Regions from separate parts of the Homo sapiens genome. Here region 1 is linked to region 2. The links come from fine-mapping of genetic effects on gene expression. A gene starts in region 2. The other region holds a variant in brackets. All regions are shown on one strand. Distances are between the middles of the regions.

Region 1 (2,922 bases), 62 kb before region 2:
TGGCCACAAAGGTCTGCTTCAAATCATCTGTCCTAATTGTGGGCAAAGCTTTATGCAGAAAGGTGTGCTTTGTACCCTTACACAAATCCCTGTAATAAAAGGGATGTATTAGGCAGAAAAAAACCAATGTATCTCATTATTGAAATTGTTGACCATTATGCTATCTCTCCTTTGGAATACTGAGTTATTAAAACTGATGTTTATAAGTGTGTTTCAATGGTTTATAAAAGTATTTTTAATATTAAGTGAAAAGGGAGTGTGGTAAAATTTTCTTTGATTCTAAAGATAAGAATTTGCTGGAGAAAAGAGCAGCACATAATTGCAGAATATTAATAAATGGTTAAAACTTTGCATTGGCTGGGATTATAGTGATTTTTTACCTTCTGCTACCTAGCAAACTTTTGTCTTTTCAAAGACGTAAAGTCTTTACTTAAAATAAATATGCATTGCTGTATTTATAGGGAGGGCAGAGAGGATTTCCCTACACAATCTAGCTGAAAGTTCTCACATGCAATCATATCATTGCATTTGCTTTTCTAGGCATTTCCCTGGAAATGGCAGCTGTGACAGTAAAGGAAGAATCAGAAGATCCTGATTATTATCAATATAACATTCAAGGTAATTTGAATTAATGCAATTTTTCTTTCTAAAAATTATTCGTGGTTAAAATTAAAATTTGCTCATCAATTGCTTTAATTTCTTAAATAATATTTTATTGATCAGTTCTTGATTGACATATATATTGTAATTCAGTCCCGGGGATAAAACATTTAAAAATGGGGCTAAAAGATCAACTCAGACAATCCAGAGGGGATATGTAAAATAGCCATTTGTGTTCTTAAAAGGATGAGCAAAAGTTGTGGCACAATTTAGAATTCAATCCCAGGTTCTAGTGTTGCAAAATAAAACAAACCTATTAGGCAAATGCAGATAATGTCAGCTTAATTTTTTCTCACTGCATAATTATAGTATATTAAACACTTAAAGTAAAAAATCTGGTTAGCTTTGCCATCTACATATCTAATACACCATCTTCATTGCATCCAAGATAATGAAATATCTATAACCCCAAAAGTTTCCTGTGTCCCCTTGTTATTCATTGCCCTGCCCAGTATTCAGGCAACACGGATCTGTTTTCTGTTTTAGGTTAGTTTGCATTTTCTATAAAGTCTTATGAATGAAATAATAAAATGTGGACTATTTTCATGGGC[C/T]GGGGAGCAGTGTGGCTTCTTTCATTTCAAATGATTGTTTTGAAATTCATCCACAGCGTTGCACGTATCAGTAGTAGATTCCATTTGATTGTTGATTTGTATTCTATTGTATGCCTGAGTCAAAATTTATTCATTTCTTTGTCTGTTGATAGCCATTTGGGTTCTTCCAGTTTGGGGCCATTACAAATAGAGGTACTATGAACATTGTGTAGAGGCTTTTGTGTGGACATAGGCCTTCATTTCTCTCTTTTTTTTTTTTTTTTTTGAGACAGAGTCTCACTCTGTTGCCCAGGCTGGAGTGCAGTGGCGCGATCTTGGCTCACTGCAACCTCCACCTCCCAGGTTGAGGTGATTCTTCTGCCTCAGCCTCCCGAATAGCTGGGATAGCAGGTGTGTGCCAACACACCTGGCTAATTTTTGTGTTTTTTAGTAGACACAGGGTTTCACCATGTTGGCCAGGCTGGTCTCGAGCTCCTGACCTCAGGTGATCCACCCGCCTTGGCCTCCCAAAGTACTGGGATTACAGGGGCTAACACGCTTTTTTAAAATGAAATATTTAAAACCTAAAAGCATAGTATCAGTCTGCCCAGGTTTAGTGAACCATAGTATTTGTCTCTTCTCTCCTCCCTCCAAGAAACAACGTGTAACTATTTCATTGAAGCCTTTCTTTGGGCTCCCCCAAATCCCCACTTTTCTCTCTATTCTTAAGTTAACCATGATCTTGAAAACTGAGAATTGTCCTTCCTGATGGTGATGTGCTTTACTACGTAAATATTCTCCCGGGAGTGTGTGTGTGTGTGTGTGTGTGTGTGTGTGTGTGTGTGTGTGTGTGTGTCATGTCATATTTATTGTTTTATATATGCCACTTCCTGAGTGAAGCTTACACAGTGGTACACTGTATGTGTTGTTGAGTATAGTCTGTCACTCAATTTAAGTTTTCAAGATTTATCTTTTTTTTTTTTTTTTTGGCGTGGGGGTGGGGATGGATTTTTGCTCTGTCGCCCAAGCTGGAGTGCAGTGGTGAGATCTCGGCTCATTGCAACCTCCGCTTGCCGGGTTCAAGCAATTCTCTGCCTCAGCTGGGATTTATCTGTTTTGTCACAAGTAGATTTAATCATGTCATCATGGTAGTTACACTGTGTGATTATAATACAGTTCGTTTTTTCGTTCTTCTACATAAAGACATTGATGTTTTCTTCTAAAACTTTTGTATTCCAAAATAGGCTTGGATATATTTCTCTGTGCACCTCAGTGCTCCTGTAAAATAGTGACATTCAAATGTGAGTGTTGGGAATGTGTTGATTTTCTCAATGAGTGGTAGGCACCTCAAGCATTTGAGAGGTGGAGGTTAAGTATGTTTTAGGGTGAATAAAATCAAGTACCATTTTTAGGGTGAATAAAATTCAAATATGGGACATTAAAATAATTTGAAAGTATAGTGATACGTGAAGGTATTTTGAGTAAATACCAACTAAAAAAAATATAGTTTAGCAATATTGGAAGCCAAAAACAGTAGTAGCAGGATAGAATAAGACTATGTCGTATTTAAAGGAATTGGTCACTAAGTTGATATAACAACCATTAGTTTGTATGTGCCTAACTATGTATCCTCACAGTAAAAGTAAAAATTATTTACAAATTATAAGTCTCTATAGATATGTACAGTCATGTGGGAGATTTTAACCAATGATATACGTCTAGCTGATGAATA
Region 2 (2,921 bases):
TCAGGCAAGGGTGAGTTGGTGCAGCCCTGGCCTGCTGGGAGGCACAGGCTGCAGCAGGCTGCCTGGGGCTGAGGCCCGCCACTCATGAACTCATGACCTTGAATGAGCTCCAAAAGCTCTGGGCCTCCCAGGCTCTAGGGGGAGTGGGAGAGAGAGGCCTCAGCCTGTCCCTGGGCATGCTGCCCCCTCCTCACCTCTTTGTCCCAAATCCCCTTCCTGGCAAAGCTGACAGTCTTAATATCACTCTGGAGAAAACTGAGTCAGCCCTAAGGAACAATTCAATGAACCATTTGCTTACTTGAGGATTGGAACTCAAGTCTCACTCAAAGTCTGTGCCATTTTCGTCCCAGCTGTCACTGGCCCTCATCCACACACACCCAAGGATGAGCATCTAACGCTTGCATGCACACTCCCATGCCCGCGTTCATTCACTCATTCATTCATTCATTCACTCATTCATTGACTCATTCATTCATTCACTCACTCATTCATTCACTCAGTGAATGTTGCAGTCACGATCCAAATATTTATGGCCTCTGTGTGCCAGGCACTAGATGGAGGGGCTGGGGCTAGAGCCCCTGATAACCCGGTCATGCCCTAGCTTTCCTGGGACACACATTGTGGTAAGGGGAGACTAAAAAAATTAAGTCAGGCCAGGCACGGTGGCTCATGCCTGAATCCCAGCACTTTGGGAGGCCGAGGCGAGTGAATTACCTGAGGTCAGGAGTTCAAGACCAGCCTGGCCAACATGGAGAAACCCAGTCTCTAATTAAAAAAAAAAAAAATTAACCAGGTGTGGTGGCACATGCCTGTAATCCCAGCTACTCAGGAGACTAACGCAAGAGAATTGCTTGAACCCAGGAGGCAGAGGTTGCGGTGAGCCGAGATCGCGCCATTGCACTCCAGCCTGGGAAACAAGAGCGAGACTCCATCTCAAAAAAAAAAAAGTGGGAGGCAGAGGCAGGAGGATCACTAGAGGCCAGTAGTTTGAGACCATCCTGGGCAACATAGCAGGACCCTGTCTGTACAAAAAAATTAAAAAAAATTTAACCGGGCATGGTGGCACACACCCGTAGTCCCAGCTACTCCAGAGGCTGAGGCAGGAGGATCGCTGGAGCCCAGGAGTTGGAGGCTGCAGTGAACTGTGATCCCACCACTGCACTTAAGCCTGGATAACAAAGCAAGACCCTGTCTCAAATAACAATAGCAATAATAATAAAGAAAAATTAAATGCAATTTGCGATGCATCAGTGATAAGTGCTCTGCAGAAAAAGGAGGCAGGAAGAGGCTGAGAAAGGTATGAGGTTTGCTATGCAATGTGAAGTTATCAAGGAAGGCTTCTCGGAAGAGGTGACATTTGAGCAGAGAAATGGAGGAGAGTTATGGAGGGAAGATGGTGAATGGGGGGAACATGGTCAAGACCAGGAATATGGTCAAGGGGGGAAAGATGGTCAAGGGGACGCAGCAAATGCAAAGGCCCTGAGGCAGGAGCAGCTTGATTCACCCCCAAAACCCGTGGGGCCCGTGCAGGCGACGGGAAGGACAAGTGTAAACCCTTTTCCTTGTCCCTGCAGGTGTGTGTGAACATGAGTCTGCCCATGTTTACACCCTGCAAGCCTGAAGAGTCCCCAGAAACTGAAAGAAGAAGCAAAGCCCTTTCTGTACCCTCCCTGCCCCCTGTCCCGACCGCGACAAAAGCGACTTCCTCTTTCCAGTGCATTTAAGGCGCAGCCTGGAAGTGCCAGGGAGCACTGGAGGCCACCCAGTCATGGGGGACACCTTCATCCGTCACATCGCCCTGCTGGGCTTTGAGAAGCGCTTCGTACCCAGCCAGCACTATGTGAGTAGCTGGTGGAGGGCATCCCGTGGGGGGAATACGGGAGGGACAGCACGGCCACCCTTGCAGTCCCAGGGCCAACCAGCTCCAGTGAGGACTAACGGGGCAGGGTCTTGGGCACCTGGTCCCTGGTCTTTGAGCCTGGATCTACCCCTCTGATCCCTGGGAAGACAGTTCCCTTGGACCCGCCCTGGGCCCCAGCCCTTTACTGTCCCCGCCTGTGTCCCCAGCCAGGCCCTCAGCCTTAGCCAGGAGTCCTCTTTCTGCTCCCCTGCCATGGCCAGGCAGCCCAGCGCTCTCTCAGGTCCGAGGCCCACTCCTCCAGGAAGCCTTCCCTGACTAGCCCAGCTATCAGAGAGTGGCCCTCCCAAGAGGGAGGCCTGGAAACTAAAGCTCTCTCTCTCCCCAGCTGCCTGTAGTGTCAGTTAGAGTCTTATCCTCTCCAGTAGGGTGACACCATGACAGGGGCCAATAGAGTCCTCCCATCTGTCCCCAAGGAGGCTGGACAAATGCCTGCTCAGACACACAAGTCCACTGGGTCCCCTAATCCCATAGGAAGGCCAGGGAGGAACTACATTTAGGAAATTGAAGCTTGTATGGAACATTTAGTCCTATGTGCCAAGACCTTTCTCTTTTTTGTTATTTTTTTGTTTTTTGAGACAGAGTCTTGATCTGTTGCCCAGGCCAGAGTGCAGTGGCACGATCTCAGCTCACTGCAACCTCCGCCTTCCAGGTTCAACTGGTTCTCCTGCCTCAGCCTCCAGAGTAGTTGGGATTACAGGTGCCCACCACCACGCCTGGCTAATTTTTGTATTTTTAGTAGAGACAGGGTTTCACCATGTTGGCCAGACTGGTCTCAAACTCCTGACCTCAAGTGATCCACCCACCTGGGCCTCCCAAAGTGCTGGGATTACAGGCATGAGCCACCGTGCCTGGCCTGTTTTTTTGAAATGAGGTCTGGAGTGCAGTGGTGCGATCATAGTTCACTGCAGCCTCGACCTCCCAGGCCCAAGTGATCCTCCTGCCTCAGCCCCTTGAGTAGCTGGGGCTACAGGCGCACACCACCATGCCTGGCTAGTTTTTA

Evidence for each region. PIP is the estimated chance that this variant, and not a neighbour inherited with it, causes the effect.
Region 1: its variant is fine-mapped to the expression of NCF1 in whole blood (INTERVAL, PIP 0.91).

Annotation. Positions count from the first base shown.
Region 1 is chr7:74,710,492-74,713,413 of GRCh38, forward strand. GTF2I (general transcription factor IIi) reads left to right here. Exons shown (of 35, transcript NM_032999.4): 9 at 541-618. The region is part of intron 2 of GTF2I-AS1 (GTF2I antisense RNA 1); the gene reads right to left. Among named protein-coding and RNA genes, the nearest start is that of GTF2I-AS1, 17 kb to the right of the region's middle. The variant C/T (reference allele first, on the strand shown) is at 1,212.
Region 2 is chr7:74,772,264-74,775,184 of GRCh38, forward strand. It overlaps NCF1 (neutrophil cytosolic factor 1), which reads left to right and starts at 1,748. Exons shown (of 11, transcript NM_000265.7): 1 at 1,748-1,840. The coding sequence starts at 1,769. RefSeq lists an enhancer at 29-574.